Linked DNA regions of Homo sapiens: region 2 is linked to region 1. A link means that fine-mapping ties the variant in region 1 to the expression of a gene that starts in the linked region. Tissue or cell type: visceral fat. Region 1 holds a variant in brackets; the other region holds the start of a gene. All regions are shown on one strand. Distances are from middle to middle.

The links. PIP is the estimated chance that this variant, and not a neighbour inherited with it, causes the effect.
Region 2: it holds the start of SVIL, and the variant in region 1 is fine-mapped to the expression of SVIL in visceral fat (GTEx, PIP 0.97).

What each region holds. Positions count from the first base shown.
Region 1 is chr10:29,922,138-29,930,245 of GRCh38, forward strand. No RefSeq gene overlaps it. Among named protein-coding and RNA genes, the nearest start is that of JCAD, 130 kb to the right of the region's middle. The variant C/T (reference allele first, on the strand shown) is at 4,656.
Region 2 is chr10:29,631,284-29,639,391 of GRCh38, forward strand. SVIL (supervillin) reads right to left here and starts at 3,688. Exons shown (of 38, transcript NM_021738.3): 1 at 3,137-3,688. RefSeq lists a silencer at 3,497-3,791 and an enhancer at 7,739-8,108.

The DNA.
Region 1 (8,108 bases):
GCTGCACTCCAGCCTGGGCAACAGAGTGAGACTCTGTCTCAAAAAAAAAAAAAGAAAGAAAGAAAAGAAAAGAAAGAAAGGAAGGAGGGAAGGAAGGAAGGAGGGAAGGAAGGAGGGAAGGAAGGAAGGAAGGAAGGAAGGAAGGAAGGAAGGAAGGAAGGAAGGAAGGAAGGAAGGAAAAAGAAAAGAAAATGCACAATAAGTGCAATGTGCTTGAATCACCTGAAACCACCCCCCAACCAACGCTGGTCTGTGGAAAAGTTGTCTTCCACCAAACCAGTCCCTGGTGCCAAAAAGGTTGGGGACTGCTGAGTTAGGGTAAATGCCCAAGAATTTCAGTAGAAAGCAGAAAGGAGCAAGCAGCAGGAAGCAGTGAAGCATGAGTAAGAGGAATCAAATAGGCAAAAATGTGGCAGAATAGATACAGAAACTGACCCTTAGTACCTGCAAAATGTCTGTTTGCACAAAGGATCTATAGCAGAGGGCAACTTTCTTTTGGAGCAGTGGAGAGTATTGGGAGAGACCTGTTTCTCAAAGCAGCTGTCATGATGCCCAGAGTGGCAGGAAGACTAAAGTTTGATGTGTTAAAATGGCCTCAGACCCCTAAATATATATAAATTTAAAAAGAATTTTATAAAAAGGCTTATTGTGGGGAAAAAGAAAAAAAAAATCTCAGGGTCCTTGTAGGAGTGAGTGCCAACCACTCCCTGAAGACAGGGTGTTTATAGTTGAGCTTCATTTTTCCAAGGCATACAGCATTTCTCCCCATTTGGAACTTGAAGTTGATGGTTGGGAGTAACAGTGTTCTTTAAACATTTTTTCTTTCCCTAGATGGAACATTCTTTCACATCTCAATTTGCAGGCATTCCCACAGAAGCGTCTGGCCCTCTTGGAATTTCTCATAACAATTCCAACTATCCCAGCTGCCACCTCCAAGCAATACTATATTCACTCACAAGGGTCAGAACGCCTGGGGTCTGCTTTCACCTTGAGTACACACCCTCAGGTGCTAGTTACACAGAGGCCCTGTCATGGGCAGGACTTGGGCCTGCTGGGACAGTGCTAGGGAGAGTCTTATGCCCGCTGCCAGCAACCAGCACACTTTCTTCCTGCTCTCGTCCAAGAAGGTGGCTTTGTGGCATTGAAGTAGTTTGGATAGGAGAAATTTTTCCTTTGAAAATCATATCTGGTACATTAGTAAAATCATCACACTGTTTTCCTCTTTCTCACTCTGACCCAGTAGACTTTCTTTTTTTAACTGATATCAACTAATAAGGCTGAGTTTTAGGTCTCTTCACTTATTTTCAGACAAAATCCTCTATGGATTAATCCTGGTGGCTTAGAGAGGACAAGTTCTTCTGAGTATTGTCTCTCAGGGATGTGCACAAGAAGGGCCTCACTGTGAAATGAGGTGAAGAGGGTGTGTGGGCGTGGGGGAGCGTGTTAATGATTGTTCCTTCCCTTTTCTCTTCCTAAATGTTCTAATTTTGTATCTCCTTAGAATGAAGATAGCTGAGGGCGTGGCCAACACACACCCAACATGTCTTCTCTTTAAAAGTTCAAATACAGCATTGCTATTTTTAAAAGACACATGGGGCTGTGCTGTCGTTGAACAATGCTAAGAGCTATTTGTGCTGGTCCCAACTTAACGCACAGCTGCCTGGGATGCTGACATCTTCATCTACAATACGAAAAGTCAGCGCTCAACCATAAATACTTTCTGAAGGCCTGGGGAGGTTTCCAGCTGTGGCAGGAGTGGCATAGACTCCCAGCTGAAAACATTTTCACTTGGCAAATGGAAGACCATGAAAGAAAACCTGGCCATGCTGTAGGGTCCTGATAATTAGGGAAAGGAAGCAGGTAAGTTGGAAATCCTGTGAGATCATGGCAAAGTGGAACAACATTTCTCCCTGTCCTATTTCTTGTTTCTTCTTCCCAACTCCACCCGACTTCAGCCTATGTACCAAAAAGTTAGAATGTCTTAGTAGAGCCGAAGGCCTGGGGAGGCCTCTCTGTCTCTCTCTGTCTCTGTCTTTATCATCTCTACCTCTGCCTTTATCTCTTGTTCCTTGTTGTCAATATCCCATCGTTAAAAACACAGGAGCATGAAGTAGCCACCTCTGGAAGATGCTCTTGAATAGGTATACAGGTATTCCTGAGCTCACACACGGACACAGCACAACCTGTAAATGCTTAAATGTGGGTGCATGCACATGTAAGCAACAGCAAGTCAAGACAGAGCCACTCAGCATCATGGTCACAGCCCCCATAGTTACACATGGCCAAATGGATGAGTGGTGGGAGACACCTGATAGGAGGTCCAATAACTCCAGCATTGGGCAGGACCCAGAAATACTTTAGACCCTTCACTAGATCCTTGAAAGGCAGTGGGATGGGAGGAAGGGGGAGTGGGCAATAAGGAAACATTCCTGGAGGTCGACAGAGCAGGGGCAGGAAGGGACAAAGGCCAGGCATGGTGGTTCATGCTTGTAATCCTAGCAATTTGAAGGGAGGATGAGGCAGCAAGATTGCTTGAGGCCATGAGTTCCGGACCAGCATGGGCAACACAGCAAGAGGCTGTCTCCACCAAAAAAAAAAAAAAAAAAAAATTAGATAAGTGAGGTGCTGCGAGCCTGTGGTTCCAGCTACTCAGTAGACTGAAGGAGGAGGATTGTTTGAGTTTAGGAGTTTAAGGCTGCAATGAACTCCTGCCACTGCACTCCAACCTGGGTGACAGAGTGAGACCCTGTCTCTCTTAAAAAAAAAAAAAAAAAGAAAAGAAAAGAAAACGAAAAAGAAGAAAGAAAGAGAAAGAAAGAAAGAAGAGAAAGAAAGAAAAGAAAGAAAGAGAAAGAAAGAAAGAGGTAAAGAAAAAGAAGGAGCAGAGCCAGGCTATTCCAACCCTTTGACCTCTCCCATTTGAGGGAGAAAACATATCCCAACCAGCCTCACGTCAATGTGGGCACCCCCATCACTACCTGGGAAGACTCTTAAGGAGGGGCAGGCACTGGGCTTTTCCTCATCTGCTCAGTACAGTAGGGGTGACTGGATATCAGGGCCATTCATGGGAAATCGAGGCAGAAGGTAGTGAGAGGCACTGTGAGAGGCTGCCCAGTGGGTGTCACAGACATTCACCTGGACTCACTCTGCAGGGTTACTACCCTTGGGGAAGAAATAAAATGGAAAGAAACAGAACCCTGCTATGATGGTTAACATTGTGTGTTAACCTGACTGGGCCATGGGTAGCTGGTTAAATGTTGTTCCCAGATGTGTCTCCGTGGGTGTTTCCAGAAGGGCATTTGGATTGGTGAGCTGAACAAAGCAGATGGCCCTCCCCAGGGTGAGTGGGCATCACCCCATCTGCTGAGGGTCTGAATGGAGCATAAAGCGGGAGGAAGGGTGAATTTGCTCTCTGCCTGGCTGCTTGGGCTGGAACATGGATTCTCCAGCCTTTGGTGCTCCTGGTGCTCACATCTTCAGACTTGGGGAAGTCACACCATTGGCTCTGTAGCTCTCAGGCCTCCCAACTAAATCACTGGCTCTCCTGGGTCTCCAGCTTGCAGAAGGTAGATCATGGGACTTCCCAACCTGCAGAGTCCAAATCTTTAGAGAGAAGCTAATTATAAGGTACTGGCTCACATGATTATAGAGGCTGAGAAACCCCATGACCTGCTGTCTACAAGCAGGGGACCAGGAAAAGGAGCTATATTTCTCTCATTGGTTTTGTGTTGTTATAAAAGAATACCTGAGACTGGGTAGTTTATAAAGAGGCTTATTTGGCTCATAGTTCTGCAGGCTGTATGAGCCTGGCACCAGCATCAGCTTGGCTTCTGATGAGCCCTCAGGGAGCTCTTACTCATGGCAGAAGGCAGAGGGGAGCAGGTGTGTGACATGGTGTGTTAGTTCGTTCTCACAGTGCTGTAAAGAAATGTCTGAGACTGGGTCATTTCTAAAGAAAAGAGGTTTAATTTTCTCATGGCTGTGCAGGATGTACAGGAAGCATGATGCTGGGGAGGCCTCCGGAAACTTACAATCATGGTGGAAGGCAAAGGGGAAGTAGGCACGTCTTACATGGCAGGAGCAGGAGGAAGAGAGTGAAGGGGGAAGTGCTACACACTTTTAAACAATCAGATCTCGGGAGAACTCACTCGCTATCACAAGAACAGGAAGCGGGAAATCTGCAGCATGATCCAATCACCTACCACCAGGCACCTCCCACAACACTGGGGATTACAATTCAACATGAGATTTGGGTGGGTACCCAAACCCAAACCATATCACATAGTGAGAGAGGGAGCAAGAGAAAGGGGAGGAGGTGCCAGCCTCCTTTAAACAAACAGCTCTCCTGTGAACTCACGGAGAGAGAACTCACTCATTACCATGGAGATGGCGGAGAGAGAATGCACTCATTACCATGGAGATGGCGTCTAGCCATTTATGAGGGACCCACTCCCATGACCCTAACACCTCCTACGAGGCCCCATTTCCAACAACGGGGATCACGTTTCAACATGAGATTTGGAGGGGAAAGATACCCAAACCATGTCAAGTTCTGTTTCTCTGGAGAACACTGACTGATACACCCGTCTACCTCCCACCCTGCTGTGAGTGAGGTACCCCACGAGGCTGCAATTGGATCTAAGGAAAATGCCTGG[C/T]CTGCCGCACTGCTGAAAGCCAGCAGGGGGCTGTTTTGGTTTGTGCAAGCACTGACATGCAGTGATTGTTCTGGTCACCGCATGATCTCCTGAAAGGAAAAATGCTGAAATACCACAAAACTGTCTTATGAACAAAGTCCCAAATGCTCCCTTAACTGTCCTAGAACCTTAGGCTGCCACTGATGCTTACGTTTTTGAATCCTTTTTTCTCCCAGTTTCTACGTCTTTAATTCCCAAAGATCAAATTCTAATGGAGTTCCCCATATCACTTAGGTTAAGTGCCAAAGTCCTCACAATGGCCTGCAAAATCTTGCGCCCCTCGTGTCTCTGACCACAACATCATCAGTTATCCCATTGTCCACTCTGCCCTAGACCCTCTATCTCCTTACTGTTCCCAAATGTGAGGCAAGCACCCATCTCAGGGCCTTTGCTTTTGCTGTCCCCTCTTTCTGGAAAACTCTTCCCTCAGATCTCTGTCAGGTGCCTTGTCACATTTCCTCAGGCCATATCGAAATGCCCCCTTCTCAGCAAGGCCTCCCCAGCCACCTGTCTCAAACCGCAAGTCCATTTCTCTACCCTCGTCTCCCTCCACTGCATTACTGCCCTCTTTAGCACTTCACATGAGCTAACTTCCATGCCATAACTTCCTTCCCTTCTTCCCCCGTCTTCCCCATCTGATAGTCCCCAGTTTCTTTTGTTGACATCTTTATGTCCATGCATACCCAGTGTTTAGCTCCCACTGATAAGTGAGAACTTACTTTCTAGGTTTCTTGGCCTTTCTTGCCATTAGGTTGAGGCCATAGGACTAATTTTGGTTAGTGGATGGTGAGAGGAAGTGACATGTGCCACTTCTAACTGAGGCAATTAAAAACCAAAAAGACCACATGTTCCAGATGGGGCAGCTGCAAGAGCAGAGCCTCCATCCACCCTGCCCTGAATGCCCGTGTGGAGCCGAGTGCCCTGTCAACATGCATGACTCATGTTTGGGATGTATCACTATTGCCCCTAGTCTTCACCTAACTAATGAGCATGCTTTCACCCTGAAAACACTACTATTGCAACTTACAAAACAAACAAAATAAAGATAATTCTTCATTGTGTAAGTTATTTTAAATAGCAACTTCTCTAGTAAAGTTTTTCTTTAGAGGTCACTAGCAATTGACATAGAAAAGAGGGATGATCAGGGGAAAGTGTTTGGAAGCATTGCCAATAGAAAATCAATGCAGATGGCCAGGCACGGTGGCTTGCACCTGTATTCCCAGCACTTTGGGAAGCCAAGGTGGGCAGATCACTTGAGGTCAGGAGTTAGAGACCAGCCTGGCCAACATGGCAAAACCCCATCTCTACTAAAACTACAAAAATTAGCTGGGCGTGGTGGCGTATGCCTGTAATCCCAGTTACTCAGGAGGCTGAGGCACGAAAATCGTTTGAATCCGGGAAGCTGAGGTTGCAGTGAGCCAAGATCCCACCACTGCACTTCAGCCATCCTGGATGACAGAGTGAGACCCTGAAAAAGAAGAAAGAAGGAAGGAAGGAAGGAAGGAAGGAAGGAAGGAAGGAAGGAAGGAAGGAAGGAAGGAAGGAAGGAAGGAAGGAAGGGAGGGAGGCAGGGAGGGAGGGGGAGAGGGAGAGGGAGAGGGATGGGGGAAAGAAAATCAATGCAGATAATGGCATCACTGAAATAAGTCATTAGGGAAATATCATTCTTATAACATCTACAGATGTTCTGAAGAATTAGATCCATCTCCAAAACCCGCAGTATTTCTGGCTTACCGTCAGTGTTTGTTATTCTCCCTGATGGCCAGATCTCGGATGCTGGTATGTTTCCCTTTCCCAAGCTAACACATGCCGCTTCCATTCTTTCCCCAAGTGTTTCTTTGGTCATCTCTGTCTTCACTCCTCTCCCATGCCTCTAGGAGCACCACACAGACAGTAGCCTTCTTAGGAAGTGAACCAGGTCAATTCATTCCCTTCCTTGAAAGTGGTGGGAAAGGTCCAAACTCCATTCCACAACAGACAAGACTTTGTGCACAATCCTGCCGTGCTTCTCTCTTCCACCTCATTGTAAGGTTCTTGTATCGGTTCCAAGCCCAAGAGCGTGCCAACAGACAACACGAGGCCCTGTGGAGCAACACGCTGTTTTAATGAGTGCCTGGGTACAGGCGGGCTGAGGCCTAAAACGGCCTCAGCACCAAATGAGGATGGGGCAGGGGTTTTATGGTCTCCTGTAAACAAGAAGTGTCTCAGTCTGACGTGACTGCTACATACTACCCGGACAGCCTCTTTCTCGATCTTCGGGGGTACGTGTCTTCCGGCCAGGGTAGGTGTCTTCCGGCTGGCTTTCTTCCTGCTTCTGCTCTCTTGCTGGCGCATGCTGCTGGTGCAAGTAGCCTTGCTCTTTGGCACTGGGCCTGAGAAGGGAGGAGTTCCTCATCCCTTCAAGCTTTCAGGCCGTGGGGAGAATCTTTCACTCATCTCAGGCCTCACATCCCTCTAGACCTACATTGACCTTTCTCTGTTCTTTGTCTATGCCTCAGATGTGTGTGTTATTCCCTCTGCCCAGAGTTTTTGGGTTTCAAGCTTCACGTGCCTGGTTAAACTGAACTCCTCTTTCAGACACTTTAAATAGTGCTACTCCTTGGTTTAAATGGTACCACTTCTGAGAGGTCTTCCCTCATTATCTTGTCTTTACCCTCTGCCCTGTTCCACACTATTTAATCATTGTTTCCAGCACCTTTGACAATTTATAATTACATTATTTGTTTTCATGTTTTTTTCTTCCCCCATTAGAATGATAGGTCCATGAGAGTCTCCGAGGTAGGAAGGATCTGAGATTTTACTTTACCTACAAGATAACTAGCTAGCCCACCACAATTTCATAAATGCTGGCAGAAGACACAAGACTCCTGGATCAGAGACAAAGAACTTTACTACTCACAGCACAGAAAGCAGCATGAGCTTCATGTTTTTTGGTTTTCTCTTGATCCTCAAGTCTCACAGGGACAACAGAGATGCCCAGATGGATGGCACACATACAGTGGGTGGCATCATGGATGAGGGAACCTGTGCTTAGGCAAGGCCAATCTTTTATAATGGGATGCAAGCAAACCTGCCTGACCTTGGCCCTGGAGGGAGAAATCTTTATTACATTGGGTAGTGTATTAGTCATGGATCTCTAGAGGGACAGAACTAATAGGATAGATGTATCTGTGAAGGGGAGTTTATTAAGGAGTATTGACTCACACTATCACAAAGTGAAGTTCCACAATAGGCTGTCTGCAATCTGAGGAGCAAGGAAGCCAGTCCAAGTCCCAAGACCACAAAAGTAGGGAAGCCAACAGTGCAGCCTTCAGTCTATGGCCGAAGGCCCGAGAGCCCCTGGCAAACCACTGACTTAAGTCTAAGAGTCCAAAAGCTGAAGAACTTGGAGTCCAGTGTTCGACGGCAGGAAGC
Region 2 (8,108 bases), 290 kb before region 1:
ACCAGACGGAGGAGAAACCGAGGGCCAAGGGATCCATTAAGGGCAAAGCAGTAGCCCAGGTAAGAGATGGCGAGGCGAGGCCAGGCGCGGTGGCTCATGCCTGTAATCCCAGCACTTTGGGAGGCCGAGGTGGGCAGATCATGAGGTCAGGATTTCGAGACCAGCCTGACCAACATGGTGAAACCCCATCTTTACTAAATATACAAGAATTAGCCGGGCGTGGTGGCGGACACCTGTAATCCCAGCACTTTGGGAGGCCGAGGTGGGCAGATCATGAGGTCAGGATTTCGAGACCAGCCTGACCAACATGGTGAAACCCCATCTTTACTAAATATACAAGAATTAGCCGGGCGTGGTGGCGGACACCTGTAATCCCAGCTACTCAGGAGGCTGTGGCAGGAGAATCCCTTGAACCCGGGAGGCAGGGATTGCAGTGAGCCGAGATTGTGCCATTGCACTCCAGCTTGGCTGACAGAGTGAGACTCCATCTCAAAAAAATAAAAAATAAAAAAGATGGCGAGGCTTAAGAGGAGGTGGTGGGGCAGAGGCCTCGGGGACCTAAAGGGAGAGGAGTCAAGGGTGACCAGAAGATTCCTAGTTGAGTCACAAATCAATGAAGCCCAGAACTGCTGGAAAGTTCTAGACCTACGGATACTCCCAGTCACAGCAAGGCACCCTGAGATCAGCGCTTTAACATAAAATTGCAATGAGTGTCCTAAAATCCCAGGCAGCTGCAGATTCAGGAGATGATTCCAAGGCTGCCTTTGTACCCTAACAATCACAAGGCTCCTAGCAGCTTACTCTCCATAACGCTCCATGTAGCCCGAGAGCCCTGCATGCTGGAGCTCACCAGACATCCTTATAAAAATCCCAAGGGCCCTTTCCTTTGGATGCAATTCCTCAACTGTAGAATATTAAATAACTCGCCGGGTGTGGTGGCTCATGCCTGTAATCCCAGAACTTTGGGAGGCCGAGCGCTGGTAGATCACCTGAGGTCAGGAGTTCAAGACCAACCTGGGCAACATGATGAAACCCTGTCTCTACTAAAAATACAAAAATTAGCTGGGCGCAGTGGCATATGCCTGTAATCCCAGCTAGTAGGGAGGCTGAGGCAGGAGAATCACTTCAGCCCAAGAGGTGGAGGTTGCAGTGAGCTGAGATTGTGTCATTGCACTCCAGCCTGGGCAACAGAGCAAGACTCCATCTCAAAAAAAAAAAAAAGAAAAAAGAAAAAAAGAATACTATATAACCCCAGGTGTTGCCAAAGATGTTCACTCTGAATTGAACTCCAAAGTCTTCCAGAAGTCTGTTTATCACAAAACAGTCTGTCTCCAAAGTAGAAGCAAAGATAAAGAACTGTTTGTTGAATGGCTGACTGATGTCCACTGCAAGCTGAGCGCATTAACCAAATTTCACTTGGAAGACTATGCATGTGGCAAAATTAAATGCACCAATAGTACTAAATAAAGGTAGGCAGGAAGGCACCTAATGTACTACAATAGCTTGTATAACATCAGCCTCATCCAGTGATCAAGGTGACCAAATAAATTATCTTTAACACACACACACACACACACACAGAGTATAGACTCCAAAGTTTCCATTGTAAGACAAATTCTCTGACACTAGTGCACACTTGATGCCCTGGATCCTCAAGACATCACCGGGTGCCGGGTGCAGGGGCTCACGCCTATAATCCCAGCACTTTGGGAGCCCAAGGTGGGCGGATCACGAGGTCAGGAGTTCAAGATCAGCCTGGCCAACATAGTGAAACCCCGTCTCTACTAAAAATACAAAAAAAAATTAGCTGGATATGGTGCCAGGTGCCTGTAATCCCAGTTACTTGGGAGGTTGAGGCAAGGAGAGTCACTTGAACCTGGGAGGTGGAGGTTGCAGTGAGCCGAGATCGTGCCACTGCACTCCAGCCTGGGTGACAGCACGAGACTCCATCTCAAAAAAAAAAAAAAAAAAAAAAGACATCACTGGTTTTGGTGAGAAGAGACAGCACACATCTGCCTGGCACTGGGCTGCTCTTCTTTGGAGACAGAGGGTACAATTTATATCCTGCAGTTTTACTCAACAGGGGATACCACCAGCAGTTTGGCCAGGGTAATGCTGTATGGGACTGTCCCCTACACCATGTAAATTGGGCATTTACAATTCTTAACCACATCCTCCCAAATGCCAGTGAGTCATTGAGAAAACCTGAAACACCCCCATGCATTTTCAAACGCCCCCTAGGGTTGCCACACTATCTCCGGTGAAGAACCCTCGCAGTATTCACCGATGAAGTTCTTCTCTATAAATACTCTGTTTTCCTACCTGGTAAAAATAATGACTGCCCGTACTTGTCCATCTGATGTGGTATAAAGAAATAATCTTTTTTTTTTTTCAAAGAAGCAACACGTCAAATAAGCCTTCTATGTTCTAGAGTTCACTGCTGTTTTTCAGCAGAAACAAATCACTGAGCTAAATTACAAAGAGACCATAGCAATCTCCAGGGCTTTAAAAGGCTGATGCAGTATTTTTTCTTGGAGAATTTAAAAATAAAATGCAGTTCAAACTCTAGAACCTACAGTGAGGTTTTTCTCATAAATTCTGGAACATCGCAAGTTCTAGAAATCAAGCCCTGAAGAATGAGAGTACCAAGGCAAAGAACCCTCAGAACAAAGATTATGCAAAAGGATCACTGGTGATTTTCTATTTTTACATGAATTATAATGGCAGTGAAATAAAACTTGCCCTTCTGAACTCCACCCCCATACTTGTGCTACGATTATTAAAGTACGTTGCATTGTGAATATACTTTAATTCCAAGACTTTAAGTGCTAACATTTAGACAGAATGTACTAAGTTATATTAATCAAATTTTTAGTATTAAACCTTTCTCTACCATAAAGTAAATCCTTTAAAAAAAAAAAAAAGTCCAATCCTTCTCAACCCAAGAAATATGCCCAAGGGTATCTACAGGAATGGCTGCAGTAACTGGCAAACGCTGGCAGGAATTTTCCAATGACTGAAGTCAACAAATCCTCAGGAAACATGCTCAGACAGATGGCACTTAAAAAAAAGCAAAAACAAAAACAACAAAAAAAAACCTACTGCATTTAGATTTATAGGAAGATTTTTCACTTACTTCAAATTTCTGTATAATCCTCGTTCCTCTAAGTTAAAGGGGGAAAGAAAATCACACTGCAATTCCTTATTTTTCTAATTTAAAAAACAAAACAAAACACGTTATACCCTCGAATCCAGCTTTTGATGTCTTCGAGTATTTTCTTGGAGTCTCTTTCCAATGAATACTACTTTCAAATTCTAAGCACAAAGTAAAATCCCAAAAGTTAGCCCAAATAGCGTTGTACAAAATCAAAGATCACGATGTCAGCAAGCAACTGCATCTATCAGAAGCGATGATGATTCAGAACAGGATAAATTTAGAATGGTGTTTTCCAAAAGGCTTTTTGGATGTCAAATTCAGGAAACAGGTAAAGGCTACATCCCAAAAGTTCCTCTCCAAAAAGAACGCCAAAATATTAATAAAAAGAGTCTTCTTTTTGAAGTTTTTCGTCCCCTAGTGTCCTCGAGGCTGAACTTCCCCAACCTGGCCTCGGTGGAGCCATCCATTACTGGGCAAATCCACATGAAACCTGAGGACACTTCAGCCTGGGGAGGACGCAGTCAGAGCAGTGAAGCAACTTCACATGGGACGGGCCTTTTATGGCCTGAACTCGAGAGCCTTGATACCAGCTCATCTACCAGAAATAGCCCTGGAAATTCAGAGGAGCCCATCAGCTGTTGCAGCAGGCCTGGCCAGCAGCTACTTCAAATGCAATTAGGTTGTCCACACTGTCTTTCAGCTTGTTGTATAGAGAAATTAAAAATACAACAGCAGTCTACTGAATAAGCTACAACAATACAGATTTGGATGAGCAAACATTTCTCTAACTTAGTTTTTTTAGGCTAAAAAAAGAGCACACAATCGTTGACAAAGCTCAGACACTGAACACCCCAAAAGTAAGTAACAGACATATATACAATGAATGCCCGAAAAGTAACTAACAGACATACACATCTATGAAACAGCATGATATAATGGCACATGTCTCTACAAGTTTACAAATTCTGTAACCTCTGTGGATTTCTTCCCACTTCCAATAACTGTAGAAAATGAATCATCAGAAGAAAGCATTGTGCTGGAAGTACTTTCTCGAAAATGACACAAATATTTTCTCTTAAAGCCAAAGTCAGTCCTCTGAACTGGCAAGATCTATCTTCCTATGGCTCTCAGGTAGCTCACCTCACTGAAAAACCAGATGAACCTAACCTAATGAAAAAAATATTAACTATGAAGCACAACCACTTCTTAAATGGCCATATGCATTTTTTTAAACATTAAAAGGCCACTGACATGTTGAATACACTCAAACAAATATCACAACCCTGTTTACAAAATACTTACAATTGTAGGTCTCTGTCCCTGTCGGTACCAAGAACAGAGAGTCTTAATTGTCTGCACCAACTTCAGTATAAACCACAAACCCCATAAGACTTGGGCTGGAGTACAGCAAAAGCTGTGTGCTGCGCGGGGCCTCCCAGTGGTATGCCTCTGGGTGTCAGGGTTCTCAGACCACCAGCTGCTTCGGCCAGCACAGGAGGCCTCTCAAAGCAGGATCTAAATTCCTGTTACTAATTAACCCTACAGAACAATGCCTCTCCCTAAGAGGACAGTCCTGAGGCCAGGTGAAAAGATGACAGGTATAATAATTAAACATTGGCTTCATGACTGTTTTGTGCTAGGGGTATTTGTCCCAGTCAACTGTTTTTTTTTTTTTTTACCCATCTCAAGATAACAAACAAACAAAATTTCATAGCATGGCTTTTGCATCCTAATCTCAGTCCTGACCCTGATCTTCTTTTCCCTTGGACCATATTGGCTTTTTCCTCATTTTAAAGTTTATTTGATCTTGTTTTACGTATTTTTATAAGCTGTGGTAAGCCCCTCCCTAGAGAAAAGTAGGGCAAAAATAAATAAAAACTTACATGAAACAGTTCACTATTTGGGTCTTCTCTGTAAAGAGAAGATAGGAGGAGAAAATGAATCACTGTTACCACAATAGTGCTATTTCCTTCCTAAAAAAAGATTCACTCCCACAAAATAAACATCAGTCTTTTGTGTGCCTCTTAAGTTTTTGCACACTGCTTCCCCATAGCAACCAAACTGTCCTAGATTAATACACTGGAGTCTAATAGGGTAAATCTCCTTCGTCACTTCTTTTATATATCCTTTCTGTCTTTGATTATTTAAATCCCAGTTAATTCTTCCTGTGCAATCCATTTACTTTCCTAATTTTTTTGCTATCTGCCTGGCTTAGAAGACTCATCATACTCACTTCTTTCCAATGATGATAATCATGAATTGGAAGAAAAATCAACACACAAAAGATGTCAATTGTCCCCAAACTGATCTACAGATTAACAAAATTCCTATCAAAATCTTGCAAGGTTTTTTTGTTTTGTTTTGTTTTGTTTTGTTTTTTTGAGACATGGTCTTGCTCTGTTGTCCAGGCTGGAGTAGAGGTGTGCAATCATGGCTCACTGCAGCCTCAACCTCCCCAGGAGGCAGTCCTCCTGCCTCAGCCTCCTGAATATCTGGGGCTACAGATGTGCACCACCACACTGGGCTAATTTTTTAATTTCTTAGTTTTTGTAGAGATGGAGTCTCATTAGGTTGGCCAGGCTTGTCTTGAACTCCTGGGCTCCAGCTGTCCTCCCACTTCGGCCTTCTTAAGTGCTAGGATTACAGGTGTGAGCCACCCTGCCTGGCCTCACAGTGATTTTTGGCAGATATTCTAAAATTTATAGTAAAGGTACAGGCCCTAGAATAGCTAAAAACCATCTTGAAAAAGAAGAAAAAAGTTAGTCTGGGCGTGGTGGCTCATGCCTGTAATCCCAGCACTTTGGTAGGCCGAGGCGGGTGGATCACCTGAGGTCAGGAGTTCGAGACCAGCCTAATGAACATGGTGAAACACTGTCTCTATCAAAAATACAGAAAAATTAGCCAGGCGTGGTGGTGCACACCTGTAATCCCAGTTACTAGGGAGGCTAAGGCAGGAGCATCGCTTGAACCCAATCCTGGGAGGCAGAGGTTGCAGTGAGCCAAGATCATGCCACTGCACTCCAGCCTGGGCCACAGAGTGAGACTCCGTCTCAAAAGAAGAAAAAAGTTAGAGCAATGAATCTATCCCATATTAAGGCCTACTGGATAACTACAGTAATCAAGACAACACAGCATTGGCAAAAAGAGAGACACATAACATAGATCAGTGGAACAGACTGGAGAACCCAGAGACAGGCCCACATGAATATGCCAAACTGATTTCTGTGCCATTCAACAAACAGTGCTAGAGCAATTAGACACCCCTAGGCAAAAGCAATGAGCTTCTACCCAATCCTCATTGTGGTACATCCATACCATGGAATACTACTCAACAATAAAAAGGAACAAATTATTAGTACGTTCCACGACCTGGATAAGAATCCAGGGAATTAAATTATGCTGAGTGACAGAAAGCCAATCCCAAAATGTTAGATACTATACGAGTACACTTACATAGCATTTCCCAGATGACAACATTATAGAAATGGAGAAGAGATGGGAGTTGTTAGAGGTTAGGGATGGGGATGAGGTGGTTTAACAGGGCCACATGAGAGACCCCTGTTCTGGAACTCTTCTATTGGATTGACCACATCAGTGTCAATATCCTGGTTGTGATACTATTGTATAGCTTTGCAAGATGTTATCACTGGAGAAACTGGGTAAAAAGCCCTCATGATCACTTTGTACTATTTCTTACAACTACATCTGAATCTATAATTATCTCAAAATTAAAAGTTTAAGCAGGGCGGGGTGGCTCACACCTGTAATCCCAGAACTTTGGGAGGCTGTGGCGGATGGATTACCTGAGGTCAGGAGATTGAGAACATCCTAGCCAACGTGGTGAAACCCTGTCTCTACTAAAAATACAAAAATTAGCCAGGCATGGTGGCTGGCATGTGCCTGTAATCCCAGCTTCTCGGGAGGCTGAGGCAGGAGAATTGCTTGAACCCGGGAGGCGGAGGTTGCAGTGAGCTGAGATCATGCCATTGCACTCCAGCCTGGGTGACAAGGGTGAAACTCTGTCTCAAAAAAAAAAAAAGTTTAATTAAGTATTTTTTCCAAGGAAAAAGCATCCCAACCCCAAAAAACAAACCTACTTCAAATGAAACTTTCAAATATAATCCATTTGTAAATGGGTGACTTACTGTAACTGTACTTCACATAAATCTATAGAGATTTACTTATTATCAATGCCATCTTACGAATTTCAAACTGGAAATATTTATTTTTCCCTATAAGAATGAAAGTTAATCCGAAAGTAAAATATTTGATACAGAATAAGAAATGGAAAGCATTGCTTTCCAATTGAATGTGTTTATTTAGCAGGCTGTGTAGATACTTAAAAAGAGCACCTCTAATACCTAGGGCCCATCCAAAAATAAAAAAGGAAACCTGCACATAATTTTCAGAAATTTCATCTACTGCCCCAGATTATTAATTTTTAAAACCTGACCAACTCTGGAGAAATAGCAAGAAAACAACTTTTTGGAAAGGGAGGAGATCGGGTCATCTCAATTTTTGATTATATTTCATTTTTAGAGACAGGTTCTCACTATTTGGCTCAGGCTGGTCTTGAACTCTTGGGCTTATGTGATCCTCCTGCCTCAGCCACCTGAGTAGCTGGGATAACGAAAGTGTGTCACTGCACTGGTCTTCCAATGTGAATACTGCTATAAATATAATAGAAAACAAGTTTTTGAAATCTGTTCTCTAGAACTCTTCCCCTTTCTTTTTTGTTTTTCTTTTTCTTGAGACAGAATCTCACTCTGTCACCAGGCTGGAGTGCAGTGGCGCGATCTTGGCTCACTGCAATTTCCTCCTCCCGAGTTCAAGTGATTCTCCTGCCTCAGCCTCCGGAGTAGCTGGGACTACAGGTGTGCGCTAGCACACTCAGCTAAGTTTTGTATTTTTAGTACGACGGGGTTTCACCATGTTGGCCAGGATGGTCTCG